2 separate regions of the Homo sapiens genome follow, and region 2 is linked to region 1. Evidence: fine-mapped expression QTL. Tissue or cell type: testis. Region 1 holds a variant in brackets; the other region holds the start of a gene. All regions are shown on one strand. Distances are between the middles of the regions.

What was found. PIP is the estimated chance that this variant, and not a neighbour inherited with it, causes the effect.
Region 2: it holds the start of SSUH2, and the variant in region 1 is fine-mapped to the expression of SSUH2 in testis (GTEx, PIP above 0.99).

Annotation. Positions count from the first base shown.
Region 1 is chr3:8,675,747-8,684,008 of GRCh38, forward strand. It overlaps a transcript of SSUH2 not described here. Among named protein-coding and RNA genes, the nearest start is that of SSUH2, 35 kb to the left of the region's middle. The variant T/G (reference allele first, on the strand shown) is at 5,013.
Region 2 is chr3:8,640,150-8,648,149 of GRCh38, forward strand. SSUH2 (ssu-2 homolog) reads right to left here and starts at 4,649. Exons shown (of 12, transcript NM_001256748.3): 1 at 4,582-4,649. The coding sequence starts at 4,609.

The DNA of each region.
Region 1 (8,262 bases):
ACCGGGAACCTTTGGAATGGGGATCCCAACAACAGCAAGTCTTTCATCAGTTAAAGGAAAAACTTCTGGCAGCCCCAGCCCTGGGGCTACCGGATCTGACAAAGCCTTTTCCATTGTATGCGTCACAGAGAGAAAAGATGGCAGCTGGACTTTTAACCCAAACTGTGGGGCCCTAGCTGAGGCCAGTGGCCTACCTCTCTAAACAACTAGACGGGGTTTCTAAAGGATGGCCCCCCGTTTGAGGGCCTTGGCAGCAACTGCCCTGCTAGTACGAGAAGCAAATAAGCTGACTCTTGGGCAAAACCTGAACATAAAGGCCCCCCATGCTGTGGTGACTGAGAGCCAGCCCCTCTTCCCCGCCTGGCTCTTAGGATCCACGGTGGACTCACAGCCTGTTTACCATATTGTGAGTAATATCATCTCCCCCTCTGGAGATTATGAACTGTTTCACAGACGGGTGTACACACTCGGTGTACAGAGGGTGTACACCCGTCTGTACTGGGAGTAATATCATCCTCTTCCTCCCTGAATATTAAGAACAGTATCACAAGGGTGTTTCTACTCCCTGCGATATCGCGTGTCATATCCTCCTCTCCCACGTTGCAATTAGAAACAATATCAGTGGGGGCGAGTCCACCTTCTGTCATATTGAAAGTAATATCATCTTCTTCCCTCCAGGATCGTGGGAAAAATATCCCTGGGGGGTTTCCACTTTCTGCCATACATGTAGTCATATCACCCCCTCTGCCTTGGAATATTATTAAGGACCATCTCACACGGGGGTGAATACTTACTGCCATATTGGGAGTAATATCAACCTCTCGGCCTCTGAATATTAGGAAGAATATCACAGCGTGGGTGTACACATCGTGCTCTATTATGGGGAGTCATATCTGCCTATTATGGGGAGTAATATCATCCTCTCCCTTTCAGGATATTAATAACAATTTCACAGGCTGGGTGAACACAGCCTGCGATGCTGGAATTACTATCATTCTCTCCCCCTCTTCCCACCTGGATCTCAGGACCTCATCGCAGTGGGGGGAGGCACCCCCAGTGAGGCGGGGACTGAGAGCCAGCCCCTCTTCCCCACCTGGCCCTTAGGACCCCCATCGCAGGGGAGGAGGCATCCCCCGTGAGGCGGGGACAGAGAGCCAGCCCCTCTTTCCCCCCTGGCTCTTAGGACCCCCATAGTACGGGGGGAAGGCATCCCCCTGTGAGGCGGGGACTGAGAGCCAGTACCTCTTCCCCCCCTGGCTCTTGAGACCTCCATCGCGGTGGGGGGAGGAACCCCCCAGGAGGCGGGGACTGCGAGCCAGCCCCTCTTCCCCCTGTGGCTCTTAGGACCCCCATCGCAGCGGGGAGAGATACCCCCCGCGAGGCAGGGACTGAGAGCCAGCCCCTCTTCCCCCCCTTGCTCAGGACGCCCATCGCGGATCCTAAGATCCTTTGGACCCACCTGGAGGACTGTGGGTATTAGGTGTCCAAGAAGAAATCTCAGAGCTGCCGAAGGCAGGTACCTTACTTGGGATTTACTATCCAACAGGGGTCCGAACTCAGCAGCCCGGGATCAGAAAGAAAGCAGGTCATTTGCAATCTATCGGAGCCTAAGGGCAGAAGGCAGGTGAGAGAATTCTTAGGAGCTGTGGGGTTTTCTAGACTGTGGATCCCAAACTTTGCAGTATTAGCCAAGCCTTTCTATGAGGTCACAAAGGGGGCGGGGACCAGGAACCTTTGGAATGGGGATCCCAACAACAGCAAGTCTTTCATGAGTTAAAGGAAAAACTTCTGGCAGCCCCAGCCCTGGGGCTACCCGATCTGACACAGCCTTTTCCATTGTATGCATCAGAGAGAGAAAAGATGGCAGCTGGACTTTTAACCCAAACTGTGGGGCCCTGGCTGAGGCCGGTGGCCTACGTCTCTAAACAACTAGACAGGGTTTCTAAAGGATTGCCCCCCTGTTTTAGGGCCTTGGCAGCAACTGCCCTGCTAGTACAAGAAGCAAATAAGCTGACTCTTGGGCAAAACCTGAACATAAAGGCCCCCCATGCTGTGGTGACTGAGAGCCAGCCCCACACACCCACTCCACCACCAGCTCTCAGGATCTGCGGTGGACTCACAGCCTGTTTACCATATTGTGAGTAATATCATCTCCCCCTCTGGAGATTATGAACTGTTTCACAGACGGATGTACACCCGTCTGTACTGGGAGTAATATCATCCTCTTCCTCCCTGAATATTAAGAACAGTATAACAGGGGTTTTTCTACTCCCTGCGATATCGCGTGTCATATCCTCCTCTCCCACGTTGCAATTAGAAACAATATCAGTGAGGGCGTGTCCACCTTCTGTCATATTGAAAGTAATATCATCTTCTTCCCTCCAGGATCGTGGGAACAACATCCCTGGGGGTTTCCACTTTCTGCCATACATGAAGTCATATCACCCCCTCCGCCTTGGAATATTATGAAGGAGCATCTCACACCGGGGTGTATACTTACGGTGATATTTGGAGTAATATCAACCTCTCGGCCTTTGAATATTGGGAAGAATATCACAGGGTGGGTGTACACCTCGTGCTCTATTATGGGGAGTCATATCTGTCTATTATGGGGAGTAATATCATCCTCTCCCTTTCAGGATATTAATAACAAATTCACAGGCTGGGTGAACAGCCTGCGATGCTGGAATTATTATCCTCTCCGCCTCTATCCCCCCCTGGCTCTTAGGACCCCCATTGCAAGGGGGTGAGGCACCCCCCGCGAGGCGGGGACTGAGAGCCAGCCCCTCTTCCCTCCATGGCTCTTAGGACCCCAATCACAGAGGGGGGAACACCCCCCGCGAGGCAGGGACTGAGAGCCAGCCCTTCTTCCCCCCCGGCTTTTGGGACCCCCATCGCAGTGGGGGGAGGCACCCCCCGCGAGGCGGGGATTGAGAGCCAGCCACTCTTCCCCTCCTGGGTCTTAGGACCCCCAACGTGGGGGGGGGAGGCACCACACGCGAGGCGGGGAAAGAGAGCCAGCCCCTCTTCCCTCCCTGCCACTTAGGACCCCATCGCAGGGAGAGGAGGCGGCACTCCCCACGAGGCGGGGACTGAGAACCAATCCCTCTTCCCCCAGCCTGGCTCTTAGGATCCCCATTGCAAGGGAGGGAGGCACCCCCCGCCAGGCGGGGACTGAGAGCCAGCCACTCTTCCCCTCCTGGCTCTTGGGACGCCCATCGCAGGGCGGAGAGTCACCCCCCGCGAGGTGGGGACTGAGAGCCAGCCCCTCTTCCCCCCCTGGCTCTTAGGACACCAAACGCAGGGGAGGAAGCACCCCCCGCGAGGCGGGGACTGAGAGCAAGCACCTCTTTCCCCCCTGGCTCTTAGGACCCAAATTGCGGGGGGGAGGCACCCCCGCGAGGCGGGGACTGAGAGGCAGCCGCTGTTCCCCCACACTGGCTCTTGGGACCCCCATCGCAGGGGGGATGGCACCCTCCGTGAGCGGGGACTGAGAGCCAGCCAATTTTCCCCCTGGCTTTTAGGACCCCCATCGGAGGGGGGGAGCCACCCCCCATGAGGCGGGGACTAAGAGCCAGCCCCTCTTCCCGCCCCTTGCTCTTCCGACCCCCATCGCATTGGCGGGAGGCATCCCCCAGGAGGAGGGGACTGAGAGCCAGCCCCTCTTCCCCCCCTGGCTCTTAGGACCCCCATCACAGCGGGGGGAGGCACCCCCCGGGAGGCGGGGACTGAGAACCAGCCCCTATTCCCCCCCTGGCTTTGGGACCCTCATCGCAGGTAGGGGAGGCACCCTCAGCGAGGCAGGAACTGAGAGCCAGCCTCTCTTCCCCCCCTGGCTCTTGGGACCCCCATCGAAGGGGGTGGAGGCACCCCCGGTGAGGCGGGGAATGAGAGCCAGTGCCTCTTCCCCCCCTGGCTTAGGACCCCCATCGCGGATTCTAAGATCCTTAGGACCCACCTGGAGGACTGTGGGTATTAGGTGTCTAAGAAGAAAGCTCAGATCTGCGGAAGGCAAGTACCTTACTTGGGATTTACTATCCCACAGGGGTCTGAACGCAGCCCAGGATCAGAAAGAAAGCAGGTCATTTGCAATCTATCGGAGCCTAAGGGAAGAAGGCAGGTGAGAGAATTCTTAAGAGCTGTGGGGTTTTGTAGACTGTGGATCCCAAACTTTGCAGTATTAGCCAAGCCTTTGTATGAGGTCACAAAGGGGGCGGGGACCGGGAACCTTTGCAAGGGGGATCCCAACAACAGCAAGTCTTTCATGAGTTAAGGGAAAAACTTCCAGCAGCCCCAGCCCTGGGGCTACCCGATCTGACAAAGCCTTTTCCGTTGTATGCATCAGAGAGAGAAAAGATGGCAGCTGGACTTTTAACCCAAACTGTGGGACCCTGGCCGAGGCCGGTGGCCTACGTCTCTAAACAACTAGACAGGGTTTCTAAAGGATGGCCCCCCGTTTGAGGGCCTTGGCAGCAACTGCCCTGCTAGTACAAGAAGCAAAGAAGCTGACTCCTGGGCAAAACCTGAACATAAAGGCCCCCCATGCTGTGGTGACTGAAAGCCAGCCCCTCTTCCCTCTCTGGCTCTTAGGATCCAAGGTGGACTCACAGACTGTTTACCATATTGTGAGTCATATCCTCTCGCTCTCTGGAGATTATGAACTGTTTCACAGATGGGTGTACACCCTCGGTGTACAGAGGGTATACACCTGTCTGTACTGGGAGTAATATCATCCTCTTCCTCCCTGAATATTAAGAACAGTATCACAGGGGTGTTTCTACTCCCTGCGATATCGTGTGTTATATCCTCCTCTCCCACGCTGAAATTAGAAACAATATCAGTGAGGGCGTGTCCACCTTCTGTCATATTGAAAGTAATATCATCTTCTTCCCTCCAGGATCGTGGGTACAACATCCCTGGGGGTTTCCACTTTCTGCCATACATGAAGTCATATCACCCCCTCCGCCTTGGTATATTATGAAGGAGCATCTCACACAGGGGTGTATACTTAC[T/G]GCGATATTTGGAGTAATATCAACCTCTCGGCCTCTGAATATTGGAAAGAATATTGCAGGGTGGGTGTACACCTCGTTCTCTATTATGGGGAGCCGTATCTGTCTATTATGGGGAGTAATATCATCCTCTCCCTTTCAGGATATTAATAACAATTTGACAGGCTGGGTGAACACTGCCTGTGATGCTGGAATTATTATCATCCTCTCCCCCTCTTCCCTCCCTGGCTCTTAGGACCCCCATCGCAGTGGGGGAGGCAACCTCCAAGTGGCGGGGACTGAGAGCCACCCCCTCTTCCCCCGCTGGCTCTTAGGACTTCCATAGCAGGGGGGAGAGGCACCCCCGCGAGGCGGGTTCTGAGAGCCAGCCCCTCTTCCCCCCCTGCCTCTTAGGACTTCCATAGCAGGGGGGGGAGTCACCCCATGCAAGGCGGGGAATGAGAGCCAGCCCCTCTTCCCCCCCTGGCTCTCAGGACCCCCATCGCAGGGTGGGAGGAACCCCGTGAGGCAGGGACTGACAGCCAGCCCCTCTTCCCTCCCTGGATCTTTGGACCACCATCGCGGGGGTGGAGGCACCCCCCGCGGCTCGGGGACTGAGAGCCAGCCCCTTTTTTCCCCTGGCTCTGAGGACACCCATCGCAGGATGGGGAGGCACCCCCGGCGAGCCCGGGACTGAGAGCCAGCCCCTCTTCCCCCACTGGCTCTTAGGACCCCCGTCGTAGGGGGGAGGCAGCCCCCACGAGGCGGGGACTGAGAGCCAGTCCGTCTTCCCCCCTGGCTCTTCGGACCCCCATGGGGGGCGGGAGGCACCCCCAACGAAGCGGGGACTGAGAGCCAGCCACTCTTTTCCCCCGGCTCTTGGGACCCCCATCGCAGGAGGGTGAGGCACCCCCCGTGCGATGGGGACTGAAAGTCAGCCCCTCTTCCCCCCGGCTCTTAGGACCCCCATCGCAGCGGGGGGAGGCACCCCCTGGGAGGCGGGGAGTGAGAGCGAGCCCCTCTTCCCCCTCTGGCTCTTAGGACGCCCAGCACAGGGTGGGGAGGCACCCACCGCAGGGTGGGGACTGAGAGCCAGCCCCTCTTCCCCCCCTGGCTTAGGAACCCCATCGCAGATCCTAAGATCCTTAGGACCCACCTGGAGGACTGTGGGTTTTAGGTGTCCAAGAAGAAAGCTCAGAGCTGCCGAAAGCAGGTACCTTACTTGGGATTTACTATCTGACAGGGGTGGGAACGCAGCCCAGGATCAGAAAGAAAGCAGGTCATTTGCAATCTAGCAGAGCCTAAGGGCAGAAGGCAGGTGAGAGAATTCTTAGGAGCTGTGGGGTTTTGTGGACTGTGGATTCCAAACTTTGCAGTATTAGCCAAGCCTTTCTATGAGATCACAAAGGGGGCGGGGACCGGGAACCTTTGCAAGGGGGATCCCAACAACAGCAAGTCTTTCATGAGTTAAAGTAAAAACTTCTGGCAGCCCCAGCCCTGGGGCTACCCGATCTGACAAAGCCTTTTCCATTGTATGCGTCAGAGAGAGAAAAGATGGCAGCTGGACTTTTAACCCAAACTGTGGGGCCCTGGCTGAGGCCGGTGGCCTACGTCTCTAAACAACTAGACAGGGTTTCTAAAGGATGGCCCCCCTGTTTGAGGGCCTTGGCAGCAACTGCCCTGCTAGTACAAGAAGCAAATAAGCTGACTCTTGGGCAAAACCTGAACATAAAGGCCCCCTGTGCTGTGGTGACTTTAATGAATACTAAAGGACACCATTGGCTAACGAATGCCACACTCACCCAGTACCAAACTTTGCTCTGTGAAAATCCCCATATAACCATTGAAGTTTGTAACACCCTACACCCCGCCACCTTGCTCCCGGTATCAGAGAGCCCTGTCGAGCCTGATTGTGTAGAAGTGTTGGACTCAATTGACTCTAGCAGACCTGACCTCCGGGACCAGCCTTGGGCATCAGTAGACTGGGAACTATACGTGGATGGGAGCAGCTTCTTCAACCCCCAAGGAGAGAGAGGTGCAGGGTGTGCAGGGGTAACCCTGGACACTGTTGTTGAAACCAGGTCGTTGCCCCAGGCCACCGCAGCCCATAAAGCTGAACTCATTGCTTTCATTTGGGGCGTTAGAACTCAGTGAGGGTGAGACTGTCAACATTTACACTGATTCCCGGTATGTCTTTTTAACCCTTCAAGTGCATGGAGCGTGATAGAAAGAAAAAGGCCTATTTAACTCTGGGGGAAAAGACAGAAAATATCAACAAGAAATCTCGCAATGATTAGAAGCAGAGTGGAAACCCCACAAGGTGGCAGTTATGCATTGCAGAGGACACCAGCGAGCTTCCACCTTGCTGGGTTTGGGGAATTCCCGCGCTGACTCAGAGGCTCGAAAAGCAGCATCTGCCCCCTTTCGGGCATCAGTGCTCCCTCAAGCACCTGATCTTGGACCTACTTCTTCTAAAGAAGAAAAGGACTTTCTCCAGGTAGAGGGAAGGACAAGTGATGGAGGAAGGATGGATTCGGTTACCAGATGGGAGAGTAGCTGCGCCACAGTTGCTAGGAGCTGTAGTTGGACAAGAAACCACCCATCGAGGTCAGGAGTCACTGGAAAAGTTGTTAGGCCAGTGTTTCTACATCTCACATTTGTCAGCCCTTGCCAAAACGGTGAGGCAGCGGTGTGTTACCTGCCGACAGCATGATGCGAGGCAAGGTGCAGCCGTTCCGCCCGGCATACAAGCTTATGGAGCAGCCCCCTTTGAAGATCTCCAGGTAGACTTCACAGGGATGCCAAAGTGGGGAGGTAACAAGTATTTACTAGTTCTTGGGTGTACCTACTCTGGGTGGGTGGAGGCCTATCCAACACGAACTGAGAAAGCTCGTGATAACCCCTGTGCTTCTTCGAAATCTGATTCCTAGATTTCGACTGCCCTTACGGATCGGCTGAGATAACGGACCTGCGTTTTTGGCGGCCTTGGTACAGAAGACGGCAAAGGTATTGGGGATCACACGGAAACTGCCTGCCACCTCCCGGCCTCAGAGTTCCGGAAAGGTGGAATGGATGAATCGGACTTTCAAAAATAGTACTATTGTCTTCCCCGCTGGATATTTAAAACAACACCACAAGGGGCATCAAACTACCTGCTAAATTTGAGGGAATGTTATCCTCTCCCCACCTCCCCCGGCCCCGGATATTAGAGACAATAACACAGGGTCAATGTACACCCACTGTTTTATTGGGAGTAATATCATCCTCTCCCTTC
Region 2 (8,000 bases), 36 kb before region 1:
ATGGTCATGGCTGCACAACAACGTGAATGAACAATACTACTGAACTGGGCACTTACAAATGGCTAAGATGGCAAATTTTATGTCAGGTATATTTTATCACAAATAAAAACAACTTGAGAATGACAGGTGATCCTAAGAGAAAGAAAAGAAAGAAGTTCTGTTTTTGCCACAAAGAACAAACAAATAATTGGTCACAGTAGTTCAAGTACTTCCTAGCAAGACCAGAAAACCTGATCATATCACCCCCTCACCTAACCCCTGCAGTGACTCACTATTACCCACAGCTAAATCCAAGCTCCTGAATTTGGCAGGTAAGGTCCCTACATTAGATGCCCTTACCCACAAGAGAGGAAGAAAGGATTCTCATCTGCCCACATGCCAAGGAAAAGCCTCCTACATGTGCAGACCAGGGTGAGAGAAGGTAAGGCAGCTAACTGTGGAAGACGGCAACAGTAGGGAAAAAGAACACAGAGAAAAAAGGAAGGAAAGAGACAAGGAGAACAGAAAGAAAGAAGGAAGGAGAAAGGCAAGCCTGCTGGAGAGAGAAGCATGAATAGTTGGTTTGGGAGCCATTGAAAAAATATTTGGGGAAGCAAATGTTCACCATGCCGTGAGACCAACATCAAGAGAAATGGGTGAAGGGTTGGGAGAAGATTTGCTTTAAGTTATGTAGGCCACCCTGGGTTGCCAAGCAAGAATGCAGCAAATATTGCAATTTTTGTTTTCAATTATTTGAGATTGTTATTTGTCAATATTTTTCAATTATTTGAAATATGAAATTAATGCTTCTTAGAAAGTGCTGTCATGCCAAGACAGGGCCACACAGGGACTGGGCTTCCCAGAGGTGCCCTGTGGCTTCATGATACAGACATTTGTACTCACCCTCACACACCCTGTGCCATTTCCCCAGCCCTGGCTGGGGCTGGTTCTGCCAGCGGCACCACTGGGCACCCCCTCCAGACTTAGCTTAGACCTCCCCGTCTCCAAAGCCTGCCTGAGTGCGGCTCCCTGTCCTGTGCCCCTTGGCACTCCACTCCACTTCTCCACTGTTGTTTTGCCAAACGGCTTCTTAAGAATCCTTTGTAAAAGGTCCATGTGGGGTCTGTGTCCCCCACCAGACTTGGAGTACCCCAAAGGTAGATCAATGTTTTATTCATCCTCATTTTCCCAGCAATGACCACAGCACAAAATACCTAACCTGCTACGCAGTCTTTGGGGAGAAAAAATCACTCAATTTTTTAGGGCCTTGATTTCCTTTCCCTAAAAGCAGGGCTCAGGGAGTAGGGTCACTGAGAGGAGCAAATGAGACAATGGATGAGAGGGGACTCTGGAAACTGATTCAGGAGAGCCTGGGGATCCTGTCTAAGCTGTAACAATTTCACTGAAGCTTTTTATTTCTTACTCACTCCCCAAAGTAGATGCTGTATCTTCCTATTAGGGGCTACCGGAACCACTATCCCCCTCCCGAAGTGTGCAGCCTGTGGGAAAGACCAGATGGGCCCCTAGAGGCCAGGGCTAACCTAGCTGGGAAAGCTGCATTCCGGTGGCTGTGCCTCCATCCACGGGATGTGTGAAAAACACTGAGATCCCCCGTCAGTCACCACAGCTAACGGCAGCTTGGCCCTTGCCAAGAAGTCCAGCACCCTTTCTCACCAAGATACACTGAGAGCCTGAAAGCTAGTATCAATTTTCCATCCCTAGTCGTGGAGGGCAGGGGCATTCTATGAACAAGACTTCTGGGAGCAGAGCTGGCCTGGGTACCAAGGGAGAGTCCCAGCTGCTCAGCACTGGGTCAGGGGTGGTGATGGCGATGTGGCCCCAGACCAGGGCTCTCACTCGTGATCTCAATCCTGCCCCTGTGGACGGGGGTCCACAGGAACTCATGCCCAGGAGTAAAAAGGTACAACCCATGTCTTATAGTCCTAGACCAGAAAAGCTGCCTCCTAAAATTACCAGAGACTGTATTTATAGCCCATCTTACTTGAAGAGGCTTTTGCTCACCATTTCTGGAAAAGGTTTCAGTCTGCAATCAAAGAAGTAAGTTCTATCACAAAAGATATGGTATATAGAATAAGGGAGGGGATTTTTTTCTCTTCCGCTCTGTGCTAGGACACTGCACTTTAAGAAAAGAGTGATTACCTCTAGGATTGTTGAAGAAACAGGATCTGGTTAGGCTAGAAAAGAAAAGACTTACAGGGCTCTTATCTTAAACAGGGAACAGACATTCTGAGTAGACTTGCAGCCTGGAATCAAGACCAAAGAGTAGAAGCTCCAGGGAGAGAGATAGCGATTCAATGTAAGAAAGAATTTTGGACAGTCTCGACTATAGAAATAGAACCAGACCATCACTGGAAGTGGTCCAGCCAAAGTAGGAGATGCTGCCCTGGTCAGGGATGCTGTAGACAGCCAGCACCTGAAGGTGATGGTCAAAGGCCTCCTTGAGGAGATTTGCACATGGGTGCCACATCCCAGAACGTTCCTATCCATGCACTTTTGTCCCAAAACGTATCACTGGAGAAAGGTTTTCTCCCCCTGAAGTCACTCATATTATAGACCTGAAAAGTGATGGGACAACACTATAGTGCCTGGAACATTAACTCGATTGGATAAAATGGGCAATCACCTCTCCCCTAAACAGGCACATTTAAATTATGTAAGGCCTGTAGCAGGCTCCCTTTCTGACACTTGGGGAAAAAAAAATCTACCTGGTTTCTGATTTCATTAACTTTTTCTAAAAGTTTCCCTGGGTGCCTCTATACCTTGCAGTGAACCCCAAGTGCTCACCTGAGTTCCATCACATCTGAGACCAGCACTCAGGACAACCCTATGAAAGACTCAGGGTTCCTAGACTTGTAATGGGCCCAAAGACTTCACTTTTCTCTCACCTTGCTCACCAAAAGGCATGAGGTCAAAACAGGAACTTCACAGAAGATAATATTTCCCATTAATAGCAGTTTACTTTTAAAGTTCTGGGGACCTGATCATTTCGTAGAGTCAATATTGACTCCATGTCTACTCTGGGCTGGTGATGTATTAGGCACTTTGTAGCCAACGAATCTTTGATCAATCCTGCAAGATGACACCATCCCTTTAAAAAAAATTATGGGAAATGAAATTCAGAGAGGTTAAGTGACTTGAGCAAAGTCACCCAGAAACTAGGAGGCAGAGCATAGGTTTGAGTCCAGATCTGACCTAGTCCATTGCTACTATGAGAAACTCTAATCATAAATGGAAAGACTGCTAATAAACAGTGTTTTGAAGAAAAAAGATTGCATTAGAATGTTATTTGAAGCTTATTAGAACAAGAGTATGGATATACAATTTCCAATATATTAGAGGTCAGATTAAGCCCTCCTCCAATACATGCTAAAATATCTCCAGGCAGTCTTTCACTTCAATATGAAAAAAGATTCCAACAAAATTTAAATTGAGCTCTCTAAGTTTAGTATAGGTTAATTTCATATTCTGCTTCAGGTCTAAAACTTAAAGCTTTAAGATATCAACATTAAAGACAAGAAAGAGTGTTATGCCTGCAAAGAAGCTCCAGTGTCATCAAGTCTGGTGACTATGAAGTTGTGTTAGTGTCATGGATCTCTCTGGATTCAAATGAAAGCTATAGACCTCTCTCTACATCTCCCAAAAAGCATGCTCAAAAAGCATTTTGCCCACACCCTCATGGTCCTCAGATTGAGACCTAAACCAATCTCGTTTTATAGATGAGAATATTGCAGCTCAGAGAGGTTAAGTGATTTGCCCAAGATCACACAGCCAATTCAGAGCAGAGCCAGGACTTGAACCCTGGCCTCCCACTTCTCAGTCTCATGCTCTTCCCCTCCCCACTCCCCGCCACCGGCAACCACCACCCCTCTGCACTGCCTGTTTCAAATTCGGATTCAAAAATTTCCCTTTTTAAAACATAGCACATTTCTTCCTGAAATACCATTTCCTTCATGTTTTTAAATAGCTCTGAGAATCCATTGTATTTCTGTCCCGGTAGTGACAGGATGGGGTCACCTGGGCTATGTTTCATAAGCGATAATGAACGAACTGGCCGTTTGCTAGAGAAAGATCACGAGTGAAGCCTTTTCCCGACCTTTCTGTAGAGTTAACATCATCTAAGAACTGAATCCAATTGTGATTGAAATAAGAATCCTGAAAATCTCACTTAGATTTGGCTGGGAGCAGGAGACACTGTCAACTAGAGAAAAGAAGAAAAAGGGAAAAGAATATAAGGTTTGCATGGTGTCACTGTGATAGAGAGAAAAGTTCTCAATTTCATCTTTCACCTTCCTTCTCCATTGTCCAAAGGCTCATAACGGAAGAAGAGATCGCAAGCTACAGGTAGGCTTTACACACGAGAGGAAGGAAGGAAGGAAGGGGTGCTCTCGGCAATCCAGATGCAGACCCAGGACTGCATTTAGGGCAGATGGAAGAGTTCACACAGTGCTAGCTACAGAGCTTATTAGAAAAGACTATGGATACATAACTTCCAACATATTAGAGGTCAGATTAGGTCCTCTTCAAATGCAGGCTAAAATATCTCCACACAGTCTTCCGTGCCATCTTTGAGGCTCTACTTACTGTCATCTTCATTCAGATCCCTGTCCATGTTCCAGACGTCCTGCCAAAGAGATGTCTGCCCTTCGAGTGTGCTTGGACCGATGTGCTCTGATGGACCACCCTCAGGCCCCTCCCAGAACAGCAGGCCCATTGTTACCCAGTTGGAATACAACAAAGGGAAACATCTATATCGTTCATCATAGCAGCTGCTCTGCACCCAATCCACCGGGTTCTGGGAGCTCCTCTTCCACAAGAGCCTTCTACTGACCAAGCTCTTATGGATGCTTCTAGTTACTCATGTCCTCACTGCACCCCTTTGAGAGGGGCACTGGTATCATGCCCATTTTTCTGAGCAGGATGATAGATTCAAACCCTCATCAGTCTGACTCTCTAGTCAGAGTGCCTGACAACTGAGCTACATCGCCCAGCTGTAGGAGGCAGACTCCTAAGTATTGTAGGGCGCATGCAGAAAAAGGTCATAACCACAAGAAGGTTACCTCCCCAAGGGGGATATTATATACAGATACTCAGCCTGGGCAGGGCCTCTGAGATCTTGAGCATCACCAGCCTCATCTCCCTGGGGAAGAAACAAAGCTGGGATTGTGAGGCCACACTGCAAAGCCACACGGCACCTCATGGGCAGAGCTGGCTCCCAACCCAGCCATGTGGGCCACTACTGTCGCCACACCAGCCTCGCCCACTGTGAAACATCTTTGGATTTGTAAAAGGTCTTTTCCTAAACCTTTTCCATTGGAGTTTGACACCCCTTCAACCTCAGCCCTTGGAAGATCATCCTCCTCTGCATGAGTCTAAACACAGAACTTGTGAGCTGGTCCCCGAGGCTCTATGGGTCCCACCCCCTCCACTGCATCCTTGGCAATCACTCCTCTGCAGCTGAACCTGGGGTTCTCTGGCCAGGGTGATGAAACTGCCCTACGCCTTGACTTCCCCATCCCAGCAATGCACGTGGGATGTGCCATGATATTCCTCAATGACAACCTGGGATTGCCTTCACCAGGGGAAGCATCAGGACTATTTTGTCAGTGTCCTAAATGTCGGCCTGTCTGGGATGGCCACACTGCACAGAGATGGCTCCCAGCTGCTCCATAAAGAGCGTGTCTTTATTCTCTCTACTGCCTTCACCCTCGTCACTGACTGCCCATCGCCGACAGCATGCAAGTGCAACCTTCAGCAGTATTCACAATTTCACAAATGCTTCTTAGGTGACTCAGTCCTCACAAATCGATTTTTATGGCTGGTAGGAGCACTGGATTTCTGATACTTGAGAGTCATATAAGTTTCATTACTGTGTATACACAAGGAAGACCATGATCCTGAGGAACAAATGTGGTCTTTTGATGCCTTTATACATGAAGCAATGATTTTAAGCCCTTATAGAATTGTCCCCATGGTAAATGGGGTTATCATGAATTTGTATGCCTTTCTCTGCGTGTATATTTTACCCTAAACATCTGTGTGAGCATCCATTGCTGTATCTGTTTAGGTGTGTGTTTGCATGTGTGTATATATTTGAGCCAAAACATGATAAATGATAGATTAATGACAAAATGCTTGCAACTTAACTAAAACAATATACCACTATTACATCTTGAGTACTTTTTAAGCGCAATATATGCTTACCTAAAACCCTCCTCAGCATTTAAAAGGAACAACCACAGAAAATTCTTTAAATGTCAAATTGAACAAAATGTTGAAGAGAATTAAGCATTACAAGGACCCGAAATCTTGAGGCCGCAAAAATGCAGACAACGCTGAGCTGTATTTTCGTAACCAGGAAGTGCTGATCAGCAGAAATGACAGTCCTTTTCTGCACGCTACTTAGATCACATAATAGTAAGTTAATAAAAAGCTCTTAAAACGCATGGAAGATAAACAAACCAACAGCTAGACCTTTCTGATCTTGCTTCGGCATCCGTACAGAAGTGCTGTCTGCAACAGTGTGCTTGAGTGACTCGGGGCAAGTAATGTACCCATCAACACCTAACATCCGTGGTAGCAGCAGGAACAAGCAGCATTAGCTCTGGGACCCACGACAGTGTGAGGCTAGTACTGGTCCCTGCCTCTTACTATCAAAGGAGGTTGGGATCAGGGAAGAGAGGCGCCCACTATGTGCCTGACATCTGACAGTCATTCTTCCTCCCTGCTGTTGATGGAAATGAGTGGGCTCTGAGAGCTCCTCCTGAACTGGCCCTCGTGTCCTGCATGTGCTAAGTGCTCAAGAAACATTTGTGGAATTAGCACAGCTGTCCAGGAGCTGACTCTATCAATTGATTGCTGTCTAAGAACCTTGTTTTTTCCTGGAAATAAAATCTATGTAATCTCACAGGTGGGTGTCTGTCTTGGGATATGTCATGGCTGCAGCAAGAATTAGGGTAGGGCAGAGCTTTAGAAGGGAATCAAGGAACCACGTGGTCAGACTGCAATTGAACATGATAGTGAGGAAAAACCTAGAAGCAAGGTTCAATAACTGTCTTCAAGTGTTTAAAGGGGCATGTGGGAAGGCAGCAGCAGAACAGAATCTCAGGACACCTGTCCTATCCATGCGCAGGCATGCGGAGAGCTGGTCCGGAATGGAGGTCATTTTCGGCTGAACAAAGAAACTTTCTAGTGAGAAGAGTTTCTTGCCTTTGGACTGAGCTCTTTGGAAGAATATTAACGCAGAAGCTTGGTGATTAAACAAAGTGGGGTGTGAGCAATAGTAGAACATCACAGTCTGTGGCTTCAGAGTCAGGGTAGACTGAGTTCAAAGTCCTAAAGTGGACATGGCAGCACTGCAGCCCCTTTCCAGAACATCCCTGAAGGACCGTGGTGAGGAGAAGTACTCCCAGGGGGCAGAACCTTGAACAGTGCCTGGTCTGGTTATTTCTTTTTGTCTCAGAGAAGCCGGCTATTGCTCAGCTCCTGCTGGACGAAGGTCTCACCCCACCATCTACAGAGCCCTCACTCTCATTCATCCAGTGAATGCTCCCTGCACATCCACCAGGAACCAGGCCCTGCCTCGGGCCCTCACAACCCAACCGAACCCAGAGCCACCCAGAACCCCCACAGGAGCCAAGACTGCCAACAAAGGAGTTCTGCCCCAAAGGGCCTGGCAGCCACAGATAACATTGTTGTTGGCTTATCTGCAGGCTGGGTGGATGGAGACCAGTGGTGCCCATGGCAGGAATCAAGTATGGAGTGGAGGAGAATGGGCTTGACACAAATAAGAAACTTGTCCAAGTAGGAGGTTCTCGAAACACCATGCCCAAGCACCCTCCTCTCTCTGGGAGCCAGGGAAACTGGCATATCCCTCCAGGCCCAAGTCGTGGACCTCTAACTGCACAGACAGAAAACAGGGACTGAGATCTTCTTGATGCCCCCCAAATACCACATAGGAAGGGAGATGCGTTCACAGATGCTTTCTCAGTTAAACCTTCACA